2 separate regions of the Homo sapiens genome follow, and region 1 is linked to region 2. The links come from fine-mapping of genetic effects on gene expression. A gene starts in region 2. The other region holds a variant in brackets. All regions are shown on one strand. Distances are between the middles of the regions.

The links.
Region 1: its variant is fine-mapped to the expression of CUL5 in monocytes after LPS (Fairfax 2014, PIP 0.95). The same link has a PIP of 0.9 or more in NK cells, monocytes, monocytes after interferon gamma and neutrophils.

What each region holds. Positions count from the first base shown.
Region 1 is chr11:108,101,139-108,111,113 of GRCh38, reverse strand. It overlaps CUL5 (cullin 5), which reads right to left. Exons shown (of 19, transcript NM_003478.6): 19 at 3,353-6,924. The coding sequence ends at 6,730. Among named protein-coding and RNA genes, the nearest start is that of ACAT1, 15 kb to the left of the region's middle. The variant C/A (reference allele first, on the strand shown) is at 3,692.
Region 2 is chr11:108,003,319-108,014,427 of GRCh38, reverse strand. It overlaps CUL5 (cullin 5), which reads right to left and starts at 5,530. Exons shown (of 19, transcript NM_003478.6): 1 at 5,056-5,530. The coding sequence starts at 5,079. RefSeq lists enhancers at 5,016-5,205, 5,306-5,405.

The sequences.
Region 1 (9,975 bases), 97 kb before region 2:
CAGAGGGAAGGAGAGGATGGAATTCAGAAAAAGATAAAATAGTTGGTCTTGAGCAACAAGTGAGGTGATCTCTTCCTCTGAGACAGGCAGGCAGATGAAGATGTACATGATTAGAGGTAAAGTTTACAGGTGGAGAAAAGGCAAGTTAAGAGTTCATGCCTGAAGGCCTTATTTTCTCTGTTTATTTTTTCAAAGCAATATCATCTACTGAGAATTTAGGAGATAAGGTAGAGTAGGGGTAAATATTAATAATTATACATTTAGCAGCCATGGGAAAACAACATGTTAAAGTATTCCCAAGTTCCACTTATTTTTAAGACAGAGTCTCACTCTGTTCCCTAGACTGGAGTGCAGTGGCACAATCACAGCTCACTGCAGCCTCAGCCTCCTGAGTAGCTGGGACTACAGGTTTGTGCAACCAACCACCGCTGGCTAATTTTTACATTTTTGTGGAGATGGGGGCCTCACTATGCTGCCCAGGCTGGTCTTGAACCTGGCTTCAAGTGATCCTCCTGCTTCAGTCTCCTAAAGTGCTGGGATTAGAGGTGTGAGCCACACCTCGACCATCAACCACTGCTGAAGAAAAATCTAAACAGTATCAGTCTGGCTCAGTAATTACAGCATAATAAAGGAAAAAAGGAAATACTCTATTTCCTTTATTATTAAGTAAAATAGGAAGAAGCCATTAACACTCAGAGAAGTCTTCTGTTATTCTCTAGATAAGTAGAGCAAATCAAAGTTTGGATCAGCGCTCCTGAAGTTAGGCCATGACCAATCCACAAAGCAAGCTGTTACTCATTTTACGCACTCCAGGACATCACTATTAAAGATTTCTAAGCTTGGGTGTGTTAACTCTTAACATTTATATATGCACTTGTTTATATTTTTATATGCATGTATTTTGCTTTAATCAGATGTTCACAAAAGTCTAGAACTCAACTCTCACCATCAATTGTTAATCTAAATTGTCACCCTGCTCTGGGTTGTACACTGTCAAAACAGGAGTTCCGTGATATAAAAAGTCCATATTCTATTGTATAGCCCAGAATGGGGAATGGGAAATAAAGTCTCCACACTTAAAATGTAAAATATTGGCCGAGTGCGGTGGCTCATGCCTGTAATCCCAGCACTCCTGGATGCCAAGGGAGGAGGACTGCTCGAACTCAGGAGTTCGAAACCAGCCTGGGCAACATAGTGAGACCTCCTCTCCGCAAATAAAAAAAAAATTACCTAGGCAAATAAAAAAAAAATTACCTAGGTGGTGTGTGCCTGTGGTCCCAGCTACTCAGGAGGCTAAAGTGGGAGGATCACTGGAGCCCAGGAGTTCAAGGCTGCAATGATCTGCAATTGTGCCACTGCACTCCAGCCTAGGTGACAGAAACTCTATCTCAAAAAAAAAAAAAAAAAAAAAAAAAGAACTAAAACATTGAACTATATTCTCAGGCACATGTGCTATCATTCATTCAGTCCTACTATGTGCCCTTTTTACACTGAGGTTTAACAGGGCTGAATCCAACTTGATATTTTGAGGACCCTCTTTAAGAAAATACAAAACTTGTAGGGCTCCCCCTCCCAGAGCCTTGTACAAGGGGCCCAAAAGCTTAAGCTTATTTCTTGGTTTAAATGAAATCTGTTTCTTGGTTCAGATGAAATTTTATACTGAGAAAATACCTTCTCTAGCTTCATTTCCAAGTCAACTCCTCCCCCAACCCCAAACTCCCAAATGCCAGTTTAAGTCCAAGGTTGAGTTTAGAGTCGTTATGAAGTCAAATGTGTTCCTCCATCCAGTTGTCCAAAACATTTATTGACTACTACAGTAGGAACAAGAAATGATCCCTCAATGTAAAGGAGCTCTATAACATTTATTTATGAATCAATGAATGAATTAGTCTGGCCCTGTTGCCCAGGCTGGAGCGCAGTGGTGCGATCTCAGCTTGCTACAACCTCCACCTCCCAGGCTCAAGTGATTCTCATGCCTCAGCCTCCTGAGTAGCTGGGATTACAGGTATGTATTTTTAGTAGAGATGGGGTATTGCCATGTTGGCCAGGCTGTTCTTGAACTCCTGACCTCAAGTGATCTGCCCACCTCACCTTCTCAAAGTGCTGGGATTACAGGTGTGAGCCACTGCGCCCAGCCTGAAATTTCTTTTAAATTTAGTTCCTCTGGGTAATTAAGTCCCTGTATGCAATTCAAGTTTCTTATAGTCAAGAGTTTTTTCGATTATTAAATTGTTCACTTGATCAGTAACTAATTGCTATTATCTGTCCAGTTTCACAACCTTATTGCCAAACTATTTCTAGCTTAAAAATAAGTATTTCAGGCCAGACGCGATGGCTCACACCTGTAATCCCAGCACTTTGGGAGGCCGAGGCAGCTAGATCACGAGGTCAGGAGATTGAGACCATCCTGGCTAACATGGTGAAACCCTGTCTCCACTAAAACTGCAAAAAATTAGCCAGGTGTGGTGGCAGGCGCCTGTAGTCCCAGCTACTCGGGAGGCTGACGCAGGAGAATGGCATGAACCCAGGAGATGGAGCTTACAGCGAGCCGAGATCGCGCCACTGCACTCCAGCCTGGGTGACAAAGTGAGACTCTGTCTCAAAAAATAAAAATAAAAACAAAAATAAGTATTTCACAAATTTTCAAATATATCCAAAATGTGAAATGATTATGTTTTACATTTTTTACTTTTTTTTTTTTTTTTTTTTTTTTTTTGAGACAGTCTCATTCTGTCGCCCAGGCTGGAGTGCAGTGGCACAATCTTGGTTCACTGCAACCTCCGCCTCCCGGGTTCAAGCGATTCTCCTGCCTTAGCCTTCCGAGTAGCTGGGACTACAGGCGCGCGCTACTACACCCGGCTAATTTTTATATTTTTAGTAGAGACAGGGTTTCACCATGTTTGCCAGGCTGGTCTTGAACTCCTGTCCTCAGGTGATCCACCCACCTTGGCCTCCCAAAGTGCTGGGATTACAGGCGTGAGCCACTGAGCCCGGCCCATTTTTTACTTTTATCTGCTATAAAATTTGAATTTTGTTATGACATAGCCTATCTTAGTTGATGAATATATTAACCACTTTCAGGTTGGAATTTTTTTTTTTTTATTACCTCTTCCAGGCATATAGCCACATGCTATCATCAGTGGAAAAGCTACATTCCTGACTGCTCTCATTTTGAATTAGAATTTGAAGTCTAATATAAATAAGTGGGTTACTTTTCATATTTCTGATTCCTAAGGCTGGCTGAGATTAATTTACCTTCAAATTTAAAAATATACCTACTATAAAAATTTTAATTAAACTCTTTGTAACTATTTTATAGTAGAACATCAACATTTTCTGGATAGGTAAAAGCTTTTATATTACATTTTTATTTTGCAAGAAAATAAATTATACAACTTAAAAAATAAAATCCAAAAATTAAGCAGTTCATCAAAATATTTCAGCCTACTGCATACAGAAACTGCTACCACTTAAAATTGTACAGCATTATCATCTCAGTATGTAGTGGCACACATTCAAAATCGTATAGACCATATGAGGATAGATTACAACTTAGAAACTAAAATAAATTTGTTCAACACTCCAGACAACATATAGTGTAGATGACAGGAAAGCTCTCATGTAATGTTTATTTCACAAACATGACCTTGGAAGAATTCATAAGACAGCATCCCAGTCACTTACATGAGAA[C/A]AGAAAAACCAGCTTGAGTTTAAGATAGCAAATCTTTCTGTAAAACTAGCAAATCTTTCACCCAGACTGAAGTTTTAAAATTTGCCCTTTGAGCAGTGCTAGAGACATCTTACTGCAAATAATGCAAAATACTTTTTAACTACTCAGGTCATATTTTCTATTAAATTTAATAAAAAGTAAAAGAAAGAAAGCTAACATTTCATTTTTGGAAGGTTTAACATTTATGCACAAAATAAGAGCAAGAGACTTAAATAAAAAAGTTGACAGAACTCAGGGACCCCTCCAATAAATGTAAAAATTGGAAGACTTCAGAATTTATTTCAAGATCCTCATTTAATCATTGGAATAGTAATATTCTAATATTTATCTCATTGTGACCATCAAAATTTTTCTATATTTTTACTTCTTAAACTCTGTCTTATGTCTACTTACTCCGGCAACGAGATGGCAACACAAGTTAACATTTTCCAGATGGGATGTCTCTGTCTTTAAACTAGAAGATGGGTATTCAGAGGTTAAGATAGCCTCTGAAGTGTCTTATTGCCATACCACTAATTTTTAAAAATTAAATTTTTTTTTTTTTTTTGGAGGGGGAGGCTGGATTTTCTTTTCACTTAACTGCAGGTTATATCCCTGCTCGGCACCAATTTTAAGTGTACGCTGGAGAGAAGAGACCTGAATAAAGGATGCCAACTGTGATTCCAGACCTTTACAAACTGCTGGTAAGATTTTTTTTTTCATTTTTTTTTAAATTAGCAAATCTGTTGTTAAATTACTTAAAGAAAATTTAACAATGGCATAGGCACCTTGTCAACTAAATGATTTTCATAAACACCAAAAAGTAGTTAAAACTTTTGTATACATAACCAAAAAAAAAAAAAAAAGAAAACTGTACATTTACAGTATTTGCTGCTGTTCATTCCCCAAAATACAATTAGGACATAATTGGCTATTAAAAATTTATAAAATTTAATAAAAAACTTTGCTATGAATGTAGTGTTACCCACTTTTGCATTAAATTCACCTTCATAAATCAAAACATCATGACTCTCATTCTTAAATTAAATGACCCAAAATTAGAAGTTCCAAAAAAGTTCTGAGAACAATTATGGTTTAAAACAACAAACCTAAATTTTTAAAATGGACGGCAATTTTTCCTGTTTCCTCCTTTGGCATTCTTGTATTGGGACAAGCAAATACGCCAATGCTGAATTATCTGTTAAACATAAGGGCCACAATTACTACAAAATTATTTCTTCTAAATTCCAAATATACCCATTATGAACAGTCACCTAATTAGAGAAAACTGTACGTATTAATTTTAGTTTAATTCTTCACAATATGCTCGGTCTAATAATTGACATTTGCTACCTTAAAGTGTAAAATTTTAAACAAAATTCCAATTTCCTATAAGTTTCAGAACAGGCATTTGGCTATACTCAGCAAAACTCTAAATGTTTTAAAGTTGCTTTCCTTCCATTCAGCAGGCAGTTCACAAAGCCTCTTCGGATGGGGACAGATCCTACGAAATGCTCTTGAAAGCACTCCACTGTAACATAATACTGTATGCCTTTCTGTACTCCATTTCCTACTATCTTCAAAAACCATACTTTAAAAATATTACTTAACATCAAATAAGATATAAAATAATTTGCAAGAAAATTTGAAACGTGCACCACAATGAATAAAAATCCACGTTGAGCCATTCTTTCCTCAAGGGGAATCAATTTTCTCTTTCAAGTTGTTCACGTCCTCAAGTCCTAAAATTTCCACTACTCTGGGTATTCAGTTGCCAGCAACTAGTTAAGTTGCTACTTTGGATAGACTGAAAGGAACATGGTAAATGTTGCCTTCTGACGATTTAAAAAATGTTTATTTTTAAAATATATAAATATATATGTACATATATTTGGCAAGTTTACTGCTCGTATTAAGAGTGCAACAATTTTGCTTCTGTTTTTCAGGTCTTATGTTGTGGTTTTTCTCTTACCCCTAGGTGACTGATTCAAACCTGAGGCTACAAATCCCTAATCATGAGACCTTAAAATACCAAAATACTTCTATGCTACAGATTAAGAGATCAGTTACATAACTATATCAGAGCAGGAGATTTCTGTGTTGTTTTTAATAAATTCAGATATGGCATAATAAATATTAGGTATATAAACATTAAGTGTGTTAGTAAACACACAATATGTTTAGTAAACACACTTAATATGTTTGTTTTGCTATTTTGGCTCTGCAATCATAATGACCTACCTATCTCCATAAATTTTTTAAACTATTGAAGCAACAATTAATATAAGCTTCATTTTTCAAAACAAGCTTTCCAGCCATATTTAAAAAAAAAAAAACTCCTCATCATTTAACAACAACTAAAATAGCAGTCTCCTGCTTAAAGAAAACCAACATTTGAAAGTTGAAAATATTTAATACCATTTTTAGGTCACCATTAAAATCCAGTTATTATACTGAGCAATGTTTGAACAATTTGATACTATTAAATACTTAACTTCTCACCTACATCTGCCGTTTCCCAATGTTGCATTGACCAGCTCACTCTTTTCATCAAAAGAAACCAAGAGTGCTATTTCTAGTTTTAATTGCATTTTTTAAAAACAAAAGATAACAGCATTTTTCAGTGCATGAATATCTGAAGATCCTTCCTTGTGCAAGTACATTTTTTAAGAGAGGAAAAAAGAGAAAAAAGCAACAAGAACCCCACCCTCACCCTTCCCAACTGTATTTCTCCTGGTGGGTACAAATCAAATTCACTTTTAAAAGTTGATAATGGGCTCTTCATGAATGCAAGTTTCTCCACAAAACAGCATGCTGTCAAAGAGTGTGCAACATGAAGGGAATGCCATCATGCTAACTAATGTGATTGGCAAAATATAGTTGTTTTTGTAAGGTAAGGCAGAGATTTTAATATTTATGTAATCAAAGTCCAAATAAACCTTTCTCCAGCACAAACTTTACAACTTTCTGCCCAAGCACTCCAAAATTTGGGTTCTAAATATTGTCCATGATATTCAAAATTATGCCATATATATGAAAGTGTTGATATCAGATTCATCTCTTCTGATGTATTTGTGCTCTATTAGCCACTCTATTTGCTCTTTTATCATTTTCTTTTGTGGCAAGAACATGTTTTTCAAAATTTCTACTAATTCAGTCTGCAGCTGAGCATTACTAATTTTCTTTCTCATTTTCATTATTTGTATGATAGCTTCCTAAAAGAAAAAATAAAAATAAAAGCGCATTAATATACGAAATTATTTTAAGTACAACAAACTGAAAAATGACTTTTTATGCATATTCATCCTCTATCCAACATCTACCCAAATGAATAATAATCACTAGGGGATTAATGTTGAGACTAGTATCTTTTACTTAACAAATAAAAACATCTTTTGTTTTCTCATGCCCCATAAAAGAGAATCTGCTTATTGGGGTGGGGGGATAGGGGAGGGATAAGCATTAGGAGAAACACCTCATGTAGATGACGGGTTGATGGGTGCAGCAAATGACCATGACACGTGTATACCCATGTAACAAACCTGCACATTCTGCATATGTATCCCAGAACTTAAAGTATGTATTTAAAAAAAATCTGACTATAGAGATTTTGAAAAATAAGGAAAAGCAAAATTACCTCTGCTTCTCTGCTGAAAGAAAACTACACCTAATGTTTTAATATTATTTCCTTCAATTCCTTTTTTCCCATGCCATTCACATTCTTAAAAGTTATCTTACCTGTGAAAACAATGTGTATATAACCTGGTATCATGTTAAACATTAATTAAAATATAACAAACCCCTTACACCAAATTTTTCCCTTGTATTCAGTTATTTCTTTGTATAGCAGTACAGGTCAGGTGGGGTCTGTTTTAAAAGTCATTAAGTAGTACTCTTTATATATTTACCAGATTAATTAATTATATTTGCTACAAATATTATCTTCAGTTTATATTGACTCAATTAAATGTTTTTAAGGTTTTTTTTTTCCCCTTCTTCTCTTTAAATACAGACACAAGGTTTTGCTATGTTGTCCAGGTTGGTCTTGAACCCCCAGACTCAAATACTCCCCTGCCCTGGTCTCCCAAAGTGCTAGGATTACAGGTGTAAGCCACGATGCCCAGTCACTTTTAAGTTTCTAAAGAAATAAATCTTTTTCATCTAGGTCATTTTATCAAAATTTTTCTTGATGATTTCCTTAATTACTGTTAAGTTTACAATAAGAGTTATCAGAAAATCATTAAATATTCTTTTCTCTTTTACCTTTTCCAGTACCAGCTCTCTCTTTACCCAACAAAAGGCATGTATATGCCGGGTGTGGTGGCTCATGTGTGTAATCTTAGCACTTTGGGAGGGTGATGTGGGTGGATTGCTTGAGTCCAGGAGTTTGAGAACAGCCTGGGCAACATGGCGAAACCCCATCTCTATAAAAAATACAAAAATTAGCCAGGCATGGTGGCGTGTGTCTGTGGTCCCCGCTATTCAGGAGGCTGAAGAAAGAGGATTGCTTGAGCCTGGGAGGTGGAGGTTGCAGTAAGCTGAGATCACACCACTGCACCACAGCCTGAGACCCTGTCTCCAAAACAAAAGGCATATATCTATCTTAGCACAGATTAGAGTTTGTTGTAAAAGAAATGTCAAAATAGAAAAAGAAGTAACATTTGCTTTTAACGTTTAAAAATATAATTTTGCTGCAAATCAACAGACTTGGGAGTCAGGCACTATTCAGTAAGAGAAAAACTCCTTCAACTTCCCCTATATAGATATGATAACCAGCCAGGGAGGGTGGCTCATGCCTGCAATCCCAGCAATTTGGGAGGTTGAGGTGGGTGGATCGTTTGAGTCGTGGAGTTTGAGACCAGCCTAGGCAACATGGCGAAACCCCATCTCTACAAAATATACAAAAACAAATTAGCTGGGTATGGTGGCACGCGCCTGTGGTCCCAGCTACGCAGGGGGCTGAGTCAGGAGGATCACTTGAGCCTGAAAGGCAGAGGTTGCAGTGAGCTGAGATTGTACCACTGCACTCCAGCCTGGGTGACAGAGTGAGACCCTGTCTCAAAAGAATAGAAAAATAGGCCGGGCATGGTGGCTCACGCCTGTAATCCCAGCACTTTAGGAGGCCAAGGGGAGCGGATTACGAAGTCAGGAGTTCGAGATCAGCCCGGCCAACATGGTGAAACCCATCTCTACTAAAAATACAAAAAATACAAAAAATAGCTCAGTGTGGTGGCGAGCACCTCTAATCCCAGCTACTCAGGAGTCCGAGGCAGGAGAATCATTTGAACCTGGGAGGTGGAGGTTGTAGTGAGCCAAGATCACACCATTGCACCCCAGCCTGGGCAACAGGGTGAGACCCTGTCTCAAAATAAAATAAAATAAACAAAAATAAATAAAAGATATGATGACACCAGAAGGTCAAGTGAATTCCTCTCACCCTTGATGGTATTCAGATACCAGGCTCCTGATCATCATAAATTGGGGTTTATGTCAGGGGTTCAGAGAGGAAGAAGGAAGAAGGAAAGTGTGTTCCTTCAGGCACTTGAAGATTACAGGAACCCAGAGGAAAAGCAGAGGCATTTGTAAACATCCCAGTTTCTCCTTAGATAGAGGTGAAGGTGGTAGTTAGAGAACCTAAGAGGAAAAGAGAGCAGAGGGACACTGGCCCTGGTCCCCATTTGATATGCTGGAGGTCACTTAAAGAGTAGCACAGTATGAGGGAAATAATCTGCACTTCTGACTCTCCCTCAGTTCCCAAGTGTGACAGCAAGAGTTTCGAGCTAATGGACCTGCCACAGGGCCTTTAATGACAGGGCAAGGTGATCCTGTCATTATTCTGCAGAGAACAATGACAGTGTGCCATGTAGGCCAAGGAGCCACACAGAAGATGTAGTGGAGTCTCAGAGGCTTCAAGAGCTCAGTAAGAGCAGGGGAAAGAGAGCAGGGAAGAGGCCATGGGGCCCTTAGCAACTAGAAAAAGAATGAACCATAAATTCATCTGCTGTAGACAACAGCAGCAGTTACCAACAGAAAGCCAAATTCCCAAAGATAATCAACTACTTCATAGCTGCCAAAAGCAAGAATCCAGGACACTGTCATAACTGCATAGATATGACACTCCCTTTACTGTCATTACCAGTCAAGCAAATCCCTCTCACACTCAATATATCCAGATGCCACCTATGCAAATAGCAATGAATGAGGATGAATGGAGTAGGATCAGGAGGAAATAAAGTCTGAGCATTACCTAAAGACAGCTTAGATTA
Region 2 (11,109 bases):
AAGGCCCTTTGTAATCTGACCCGACTTCCCTTTCACTCCTATCCCTCTTGTTGTTTCCCTGTATTCTGGGTTTCTATGCTGCAACAATCCCAAGGAACACTATTCATATAGAATATCTAACACAGCATGCAGCCCTGCTTACACTGCAGCCACACTGATCTAGCCTAGATTCCTACCAAATTTTCTCCTAATTACCAATACAAAAAGCTTACCCATTATTCAAAATCCAGCTCCAACACTTTATTCAAAATCCAGCTCCAACACTTTCTCCATAAAATTTTCACTGATCATCCCACCAGAAATTATTTCCTCAATCTGTGAGGGAGCATAGAGCAGTTGGTAACACATCTGAAACTTTTGCCTTATCATAAATCATTAGTACCTTTTACTCTCCTTTAGCATATGGTAAATTCCCAAAGAGCATGGACATTGTTCTACATATCTTTGCATTCTCCATGGTACCTTGCATATGGATGTCAATAAAGTTATTTTAATAATGAATAACTTTTACAGGCACTTTTTATTGTTGTTGTTTTATAGAGACAGGGTCTTGCTACATTGCCCAGGTCGGCCTCAGGTAATCCTCTCACCTCATCCTCCCAAAGTGCTGGGATTACAGGCATGAGCCACCATGCCCGGCCTCTATAGACACTCTGAATCACTGCTTTACATTTCCATTTTCTTTCCTCTTAAAGGATAAAAAAAAGTCCACTGAGAAAAGTAGTATGAATCATATTTCAGTTTAAAGTTTGATTTATCTTGTGGTTCGGTTATATACTACTGCCTTCTTGTGCCTCCATCTCACTAGATCCAATCAGAAGGAGAGAGAATGAAAGTTAAGAGTTAGTTATTAGGGAGATGACGACCTCTGGCATGCTAGTGAGCCAACAAGTAACCAGCTAAGTAGGAGTGTGTACGCACACATGTATGAGAGAGAGAGACAAGAGACAGAGAGAGAGAATACTAGTTATCAGGAGAAGACCCAGCTGGAAAGATCTCAAATAATTTGAATCATCAAAGGTATCTGAACAGGAAAGTGATATGGTGAGAACTGCATTTTGATCTAGAGCTCAGATCAGAGCTAAGAGATAAAAATAGTGAAATCATGGGAGTTAAGACTGTCCCAGAAAAAAATATACAAAGATAGAAAAGGGCTGAAGATAAAATCCTGAGAAATAATTCTATTGGGGACAGGGGAGGGAAGTCAGTGAAAAACAAACGTGATTTGAGAGAGAGAAGACCAAGGAGGGAATGTCATAAAAACCAAAAGAGAAGCAGAGGAAATGAGCAATAATACCAGAAAAGAGGATAAATATTATCAGAGAAGAATCTCATTTGATAATCAGGAGGTTGCTAATACTTTTATGACTGACAGGTTCTATACAATTGGGTGGGAGAGAAGAGTAAGCCATATCATTAAGTTAAAGGGCAAAGAATTATAAAGGCAGCAAATGGGGGCTGCTTTTCCAAGAACTGTGACAGTGAGAAACAGAAGTTTGAGGCAGAGGCAGAGTACAAGTTTGTATGAGGAGGCAGAGTGCAGTGGCTCACGCCTGTAATCCCAACACTTTGGGTGGCCGAGGTAGGCGGATCGCTTGAGGTCAGGAGTTTGAGACCATCCTGGCCAATATGGTAAAATCCCGTCTCTACTAAAAATACAAAAATAAGCTGGGTGTGGTGGCGTGTGCCTGTAATCCCAGCTACTCAGGAGGTTGAGGCAGGAGAATTGCTTGAACCTGGGAGGCGGAGGTTGCAGTGAGTGGAGATCCACACCACTGCACTCCAGCCTGGGCAACAAGAGCGAAACTCCATCTCCAAAAAAAAGAAAAGTTTATATGACGCGACATATGAACTTTCTTATAGGCATAGGAGAAAAAAGGGAAACTGAAAAAAAAAAAAAAAAAGTAAGAGGGGACATACCACCAAGTCCTGGGGGGAAGATGAGGACTGAAAAAGAACAAGCAGAATGAGACAATTTGGGAGGTAGCATGGAACAGAGAAGAACATAGGAGAAACAAGAAAAATGTTTGGTATCGACCAAGGAAGTTAAGGGCACTTCAAATAGCTGGGTAAAGTAATGTACTAAGAATTAAGAGGGGTGAGGCTCAGCAAGAAAAGGTTTAAACAATTGCTGTTTGGGGTGGAACAATAAACTGGAAATGAAAAAAATGAGCACTAAGGGCCCAGATGATAATTGCAAAAGAAAAGGAACAATCACAATTACATGTTCAAAGTAATCTAAAACAGAAGATAAAATTATAATATCAGATCCCTACAAATGTTCTACAGACTCACTCTGTAAGGAAAAACAACAAAGATAAAGTAGTTACATGGAAAGGTTTTCAGAGATACAAAACCCCTAAGCAGTTAACTGTATATGTCAAAATGTGCTACACAAATCTTTACATAGCTGAAAGACTTCTAAGATCCAGCAATAGTCCACTTGCTTTAAACAGACAATAAAATTATTAGAGTCAAATTCCAATATTAAAAAAGAAAAGCAGCTAGACATGGTGGCTCACGCCTATAATCCCAGCACTTTGAGAGGTCGAGGAGGGTGGATCATGAGGTCAAGAGATGGAGACCATCCTAGCCAACATGGTGAAACCCTGTCTCTACTAAAAATACAAAAATTAGCTGGGCGTGGTGGCGTGCGCCTGTAGTCCCAGCTACTCGGGACGCTGAGGCAGAAGAATCGCTTGAACCCGGGAGGCGGAAGTTGCAGTGAACCAAGATCGCACCACTGAACTCCAGCCTGGCAACAGAGCGAGACTCCGTCCCCCTCCAAAAAAAAAAAAATTAAAAAGAAAGAAAAGCTGGTGGTTTTTTTTATGACATTGGCTTCTAACTTCTAAGTTACACATCAAGAAAGTTCACTAGAGTCACTGAGTCACTTACTTTTTTTCAAAATATTATCACCTTCCCTTTATTTGTAAATGTTCAAGTTAAAACACTTTTTAAATTCTTGTGAGCTTTTAAACCTAAACCCTAAGTACCCCGTTTTCTGTATATTCAGGCAGTTTTCCCATTCACAGGTCTGTGCTGTGGATGTAGATTCAGAATTTCCACAAGTACTTAACTAATATGAACCAAAGTAGCTTCCACAGGTAAGTACTTAACTAATATGAACCAAAATAGCTTCCACAGGTAAGTACTTAACTAATATAGACCAAAGTAGCTTCTCCTCCAAACAATCCTTTGTGAGGTTTTGTAAGTAGAACAGTGACTTACTCTTTTCTGAGAGTTATTTTTCGGGAGAAAAAGACCTTGCTTTATATCCAGGTAATCAACAAGTCAAAATTTTCCAGAATCACGGACAAAATTACTTCTTAAACACGTTTCAATTAATAGCATACTGTTTATGTAAACACACAGATGCATTAATAGGAGTCTTCAGAAATAAAACAAATTTTCTTTCCTTTTCTTTTTTCATTTAGAGTCTCACAGAGCAGTGGCGTGATCATAGTTAACTATAACCTCTAACTCAGAATTATCAATAGCACCTATATTGTAGGAACACTGTGAAGATTAAATTAATGTATCTAAAACAATCCTCCCACCTTGGCCTCTCAAAGAGCTGAGATTACAGGAGTGAGCCACTGTGCCCAGCCCACAAATTTTCTTTCTGAAGTAAAGCATGAGAAATTTGCTATACCATTATAAAAGAGAAAAGCAGAGTGGGATGGGTTACTCAATTCCCCGAATTAGTTTTCTTAAAGAAAGAGGGGGAGTAGTTATAGTAATTTATTGTATTATACTAATTAAGTGCCAGGCACTGTTTTAAGCATTATAGATATATTAACTAATTTAATCTTCACAATGTTCCTATGATACAGGCGCTACTGATAATGCTGTCCTACTCATAAGGAAACTTGCCCAAAGTCATACAGCTTTTAAGTGGTGGCTATTCAGGGAGTCTAATTCTAGGGCCCCTCTCCCTTTTAAAAGGTGATATACAGTACTGCCTCTTAGTAAAATTTGTTCTTCATTTTATGAGACAGTCCCATCTATTAGACAATCAAATATCAGTGGTCTAAAGAAGACATGATGGTTAGGTTCCTGTATATTTTCTATTATTTTCTAGTATTCATCCACATTGCCTGAAGGCATGAGAGGCCTCAGGAAGAAGTGGTTCATCCTTTGTATTAGGCTGGTGCAAAAGTGACTGCGGTTTTTGCCATTAATATTATGTTCCCTGAGCTATTCACTACCCCCATTTCTGTCCGTACTTTTAAGGCAAATGATTAACTACTACAGACACATACACAGAACAGACTAGTTCTAAGTCTTCCTCATTCTTCTCCAAACTTTTTAACTGGTGGAGAATCTGCCCCTGTGGGCCTAGATCTCCCTTGCTATATAAAACTAACTTTAAATACTGTCTTTGACAAGGTAACTTTCCTGCGCCCTAAAACGATGGTATCGCTTCATCAGTTGTCATCTGGTTGTGTCCTGTAACTGGGTGGGGGTTAGAAAGCAGTTTCCTAAGGAAAAAGATGAACTCAAGAATGGGAGAATTAGGAGGGAAGGTGTAACACGCAGAAAAGGGAGGAAGGGGGGTGGAGTGGGAGGCACTGCTGGTCTGACTCGGAATTTCGTGCAGACAGAACGAGAACAGAAATGGAAGAAGTGGGGGGTCGAGTCACTGAAACCTGTTAGGCAGCATTTTCTTGGTTTTTCCTTTGATGCGTCTTAGACATTGCTTTACAAGAAACTGAGACCTAACAGTACTAACGGCCCAGCTGGTCAGGACACCGCACGACCATTCATCTCCCGCTCCCGGCCAGAGCTGGTCCCTTGAAAGCATCGCTCCTCGCCAGCGCTCAGCCAGGCTTTTCTCCCAGCGGCCAGTCGGCGGGAGCGACCACCAGAGCCTGTCGACCCCAAGGCCACAGACCCGCGTTCCGGTACTCGCCGGCTGCCACCGCGGCTTCCCTGCCAGTGGACAACCCCTGAACACTCCCACACTTCGCAGCTGAACCTGAGCCGTGCCTTTCCCAAAGAGCCGAACCCGGCGGCCACACAGTAAAACCCAAGCTGGAGTGAGGGTCTTACCTTTAACAGATTAGACGTCGCCATGTTCTTTAACTTGGACTCTCGCGAGACGACGCGAGAATTCGTGGCGCTCCCGGCCAGGCCTTGACCGGAGGCCGGAGCTCCCACCAGGGCCCAGGGCCCGTCGGCCCGCACCAGGGTGTGGTGGGCGCTGGAGCAGCGCGCCGACAGCGCTGACCTCGTCCCAAGCACCAGGAGCTTCCTCACTCTTCTCCCCTACATGGTCACCGGAGCTTCCCCACGCGAAAGACCTCATGCACGCGCTCAGGAAGACCGGAACGGCGAATGCTGAGAAGGTAACGGGAGCCGACCTGACTTGGAAGAGGAAGCATCGACTCCACGAGCCTCCCCGACTCCTTCGGATTAGCCTTTGTGGTTGCACCCGCCGCGGCCACCTGCAACGAATTTAGCTCGGCTTAGGCCCCGCAGCTCAGGTTCCGCGGCCACGTCACGTGACGCGAGGGCGGGGACGCGCTCGGGAGCGAGCGTGGGAGCCTGGAAGCCTCGGTGGGTCCCGAGGCTGCAGCGAGGCCGGGACCGTGCCCTCTGCTGGCGGGACCTGGCGTTTTCCGGCACCCCGCCCCAAATCCCGGACTCGGTGTTAAGGGAGGTGCATTGTCCTGAAATGCTTACAACAGCTGTCTTCAATAACTCGTGCATAGAATGCGCCCAGTAAATATGTGTTGACTGCACAAGCGTGATGACTCTTAATATTTCTATTCAGGAATGCTTGGCACTTAGATAAAATATTGTTCAGTGCTTTGGGAGGCCGAAGGGGGAGGATCACTTGAGGCCAGTTCAACACCCTCGTCATTACAAAAAAGTTTGAAAAAAAAAAAAAAAGATTGTTTAGAGAATGAATATTAATCTTCGATTTTCTGAAGGCACATTATCCTAGAAGATCCTAAACCATAAGCCTCCGGGTTTTACCCCTTCAGACCACACACCACTGGCCAATGAGATAATATAATTTACATGTGGAACCTGCAGGATACCTGGTATTGTATTTTGCAGGTTTACAAACAGCCTTCATACGGCCATAATGCGTAGAAATAAGTAAGAGCTCTGGACTAAGAGAAGAGGGATGGGCCTACTTAAAGAATCCAATCAAGTAGTTAATACTTGTTTGAGCACTTGTATATACTAGGCACAGGAAATACAGGATTAAATAAAAGAGAAGACCCCTGCTCGTTTGGAGTTTATGGCCTAATAAGGTAGCCAAATGTTAAGGATGGCTACACAAGTCAAATATTACTTAGTGGGAGTTGTGATAAATATTGCAAAGAGGCCGGGCGCAGTGGCTCACGCCTATAATCCCTATAGGGCCCCGTGGCTCACGCCTATAATCGGCACTTTGGGAGGCCGAGACACCTGCGGTCAGGAGTCCGCGACCAGCCTGGCCAACATGGTGAACCCCTGTCTCTACTAAAAATACACAAATTAGCCGGGCATGGTGGCGGGCACCTGTAATCCCAGCTACTCGGGAGGCTGAAGCAGGAGAATCGCTTGAACCCTGAAGGTGGAGATTGCAGTGAGCCGAGATCGCGCTATTGCACTCCAGCCTGGACGACAGAGCGAGACTCTTGTCTCAAAAAAAAAACAAAAAAAACAAAAAAAAACTACAAACAAAAAAATACAGTGTGCACTTGAGAGCGTAGGAAGGGAAAGGAAACTAGTATCCTAATCTCCATCTACCCAAGCCACCCTTTGCTTATGCTTAACTGAACCTTAAGACAACTTTTGAGAGCTTGATTTCAGCGTCCTACTGTCAACCGAAGCATTCCAATTTTCCTAACTCACTTGTTCTGGAAACACCACTGCTACAACTCTGACTTCAATAAGTTCTCCATTCCATTGACCCCACCTGTTATCTGCCATCTCCTGTTTTCACTCTTTCTCATCCAATTTAGAATCGGCCCACTGTTATAAAAATGTTTAAATATTTAAAATGCTTAAATATTTATTTCTTAAAAATAGCGCAGGCACATAATACAAAATTCAGAAGGTGCTAAAAATAATACAATCAAAAGTAGTCTTCCTTCGACTTTCTGGGGTGATGTAATGTTCTATATTGTGGTAGGGACTTCAGTTATTCAGGTGTATGCACTTGTCAAAACTCAGCCAGTATACCCTTAAGATTTATGCATTTCAGCCAAGCACAGTGGTGCAATCCTGTAAGCCCAGCACTTTGGGAGGCGAAGGCAGGCAGATCACTTGAGCCCAGGGGTTCGAGACCAGCCTGTGCAAAGTAGCTATCGCTATAAAAAATAATAAAATTTTTAAAAAATGTGCATTTAATTCAAAGAGAAAATAGTTAACAAAATTTGAAGTTTAATGCTACCCATACTGAAGAATTTAGGAGTAAGTGAATCTATATTTATAATTTACTTGGAAATGTATCAAAAAATAAGATGAACTGATGGTTGGGTAGAAACACTGATAAAGCGGGCCTGGCGTGGTGGCTCACGCCTGTAATCCCTGCACTTTGGGAGGCCGAGGCAGGTGGATCACCTGAGATCAAGGGTTCAAGACCAGCCTGGCCAACATGGTGAAACCTTGTCTCTACTAAAAATACAAAAAATTAGCCGGGAGTGGTGGCGGGCACCTATAATCCCACCTACTCAGGGGGCTGAGGCAGGAGAATAGCTTGAACCCAGGAGGCAGAGGTTGCAGTGAGCCAAGATTGCGCCACTGCACTTCAGCCTGGACAACAAGAGTGAAACTCTGTCTCAAAAAAAAAAAAAAAGTATGTATATATATATATATATATATATATATATATGGCAAGTATAGTAAAATGTTAATGGTAGAGTCTAGGTGGTGGCTATGCTAGGGTTCCCTGTGTAAAACCAACTCATCTATATGTTTAAAATTTTTCATAATTAAATATTCGGGGAAAATTTTTAAAAAATAGGCCTGCCTTCCTCCACAGTCCCCCAGGCATCCATTCTTTCTTCTCATAGACAACAGTTATGTTTCTTGTGAATGCCTAGGACATTCTGTGCATGTATAAGCATTCATGTATGTATTATTTTTTCTCTCCCCACAAATGATGGTATACTACATATATTCTTTAACATATTTGTTTTCACTCAGCAGTATGGTATAAATTACTGAAAAAAAAATTTGTGCCTTTTTTTTTCACACTTTCTTTTCTTCTTCTTCTTTTTGAGACAGAGTCTTGCTCTATCGCCCAGGATAGAGTGAGGTGGCATGATCTCCACTCACTGCAACTCCCACCTCCCAGGTTCAAGCGATTCTCAACGCCTCAGCGGCCTGAATAGCTGGAATTACAGATGTGAGCCACCAAGCCCGGCTAATTTTTGTATAGAAATGGGGTTTTACCATATTGGCCAGGCTGGTCTCAAATTCCTGGCTTCAAGCAATCCTCCCACCTCAGCCTCCTAAAGCGCTGGGATTACAGCTGTGAGCCATCATACCTCACCTTTGACCTTAAAAGTCAAAGCTTTTAAGTTGTAAGAGGGGCTTCGTGAAATTATGTTGGCAAGTAGAAATGAGCATATGTTTCTTCTTATATTTATATAAGACATATATAAAAATCAACCATTCCTTCTTATATTTCATAGCCTCTTATGTGATTAATTACATGGGAAAATGCTCAGAATATAATAGGTAAAAATATAGGATGCAAAATTCCACATATGTGCCACAATTCCAACTTTGTAAAGAAAGAAAGCTACAGTTTTATTTCCTACTCTGAATAGTGGATAAACTGGAAAAAATATTCAAAATGTTACCAGTGTTTGTGAGTAGTAGAAAATGGGATAATTTTACTTCTATTTATTTAAAATCTTTTTAAAAATCACCTGCTGGCTGGGCACAGTGGCTCATATCTATAATCCCAGCACTTTGGGAGGCTGAGGTGGGCAGATCACCTGAGGTCGGGAGTTCGAGACCAGCCTGACCAAAATGGAGAAACCCTGTCTCCACTAAAAATACAGAATTATCCAGGCTTGGTGGCACATGCCTGTAATCCCAGCTACTTGGGAGGCTGAGGCAAGAGAATCACTTGAACCCGGGAGTGGGAGGTTGTGGTGAGCCGAGATCACGCCATTGTACTCCAGCCTGGGCAACAAAGAGCGAAACTCCGTCTCCAAAAAAAAAAAAAAATCACCTGCTAATTTAAGAAAATGTAGCCATCATGTTAAACCATAATACCTTACAAAATGAAAGTTCTCTATAAACTTTTCTCTCCCACCTCCTAAAATATCCACTGTTAGCCATTTGTTTTATTCTTCTCATTTGTTTTCTGTGTATGCAGTAAAATATATATAAAGGAGTTTGTCAAATGTGGCTGATCATTTACATCAAAATAACCTGGGGTGCTTATTTTAAAAGCAGATTTCTAGGCTCTACCCTCTGAAGATTCTGATTCTACAGGTCAGGAGTGAGGCCCCAAATCTACCTTTTCCCTAAGCATCCCAGGTGACTTTCCTTGTACACCAGTGGCCAAGAATTCTTGTGCATCAGTGGCCCAGAATTTCTCATAGAATACTTAAGAATGTGTGCTTTAGAACCAAACAGATCCTGCCATTTATGAGCTACGAGACGTTGGGTACATTACTTAACCCTGCTGAGTCATAGTTTCCTTGTCTGTATCTGTAATGTAATGTATTACAGTGGCTCACACCTGTAATCCCAGCACTTTGGGAGGCCAAGGCGGGCAGATCACCTGAGGTCAGGAGTTTGAGACTAGCCTGGCCAACATGACGGAACCCCGTCTCTACTAAAAATACAAAAATTAGCTGGGCATGGTGGTGGGTGCCTGTAATCTCAGCTACTGGGGAGGCTGAGGCAGGAGAATCGCTTGAACCCGGGAGTTGAGCAGTGGGCCGAGATTGCACCACTGCACTCCAGCCTGGGTGAGAGGGCGGGACTCTGTCTCAAAAAAAAAAAAAAGAAAGAAAAAGAAAAAGGAAAAAAATGTATTGCACGTGTAAGCACTCAGTAAATGTAGTAATAATAAGACCTAAAACATATAATGCTTACCATATGTCAGACACAGTTCTATGCACTTTACATAGATGAATACATTTGATGTAGGAATTTAATTCCTCCTTGTGGAGACCTTAAGTATCTTTTTTTGTTTGTTTCTTTTGAGACAGAGTTTCACTCTTGTTGCCCAGGCTGGAGTGCAATGGTGCAATCTTGGCTCACTGCAACCTCTGCCTCCCGGGTTACAGGCATGTGCCACCATGCCTGGCTAATGTATTTTTAGTAGAGATGGGGTTTCTCCATGTTGGTCAGGCTGGTCTCGAACTCCTGACCTCAGGTGATCCACCCGCCTTGGCCTCCCTTAGTGCTGGGATTACAGGCGTGAGCCACTGCGCCCGGCCTTAAGTATCTTTTAAACTTCACACCTGAGAAGAGGAAGAGTCAGGTAGCTGATGTGAATGATCCATCATTTAGAAGGGGAAAAATGATGATGGAAAGGATAGAAAGGAGAAAATGTGCTAGAACCATGTTCTTGATAAGGCAAGAGGATGGCACTTAGGGCACACATGGGGAGAGGTGCACCTTGGCTAGCACCATGGACAGTCACACCTACTAGGAGGATAGACACGAGACCGTCGATAGGCTCTTGGAAGTGAAGATTCTCTTCCGATTGCTTCTCTTCTCTAATTGAAGTTGGAAGCCAGGTCATGAGCTGATAGTGAGGATGCTGTGAGGTTTAAGAAGAAAGGAGAAAAGGAGAAGATGGGAAATTGTTATCTATGATGGTGGAAGAGGAAAGAGAAATATATAATGATTCCTGGGCATCCCTAAGTGCCAACTTGAGACTAGTTATCCCAGATTTTAATTGAGGTCTCTCAGCATAGCTAAGGAAATTAACATTCACCAGGGTTAAGTAATGTGCCTAAGGTCTCACAGCTCCTACGTGGCAGGACCTGTTTGATTCAAAAGACATATTCAGCCACTCGGGTGCAGGCGTAGAATTGGATGTAACCAAAGTTGGGGTTTTGCCGAGAGAGAATGATGGAGGGCATTGAGCATATATACAAGGGAGTGAGTATGATGATCGACCCTTGGATT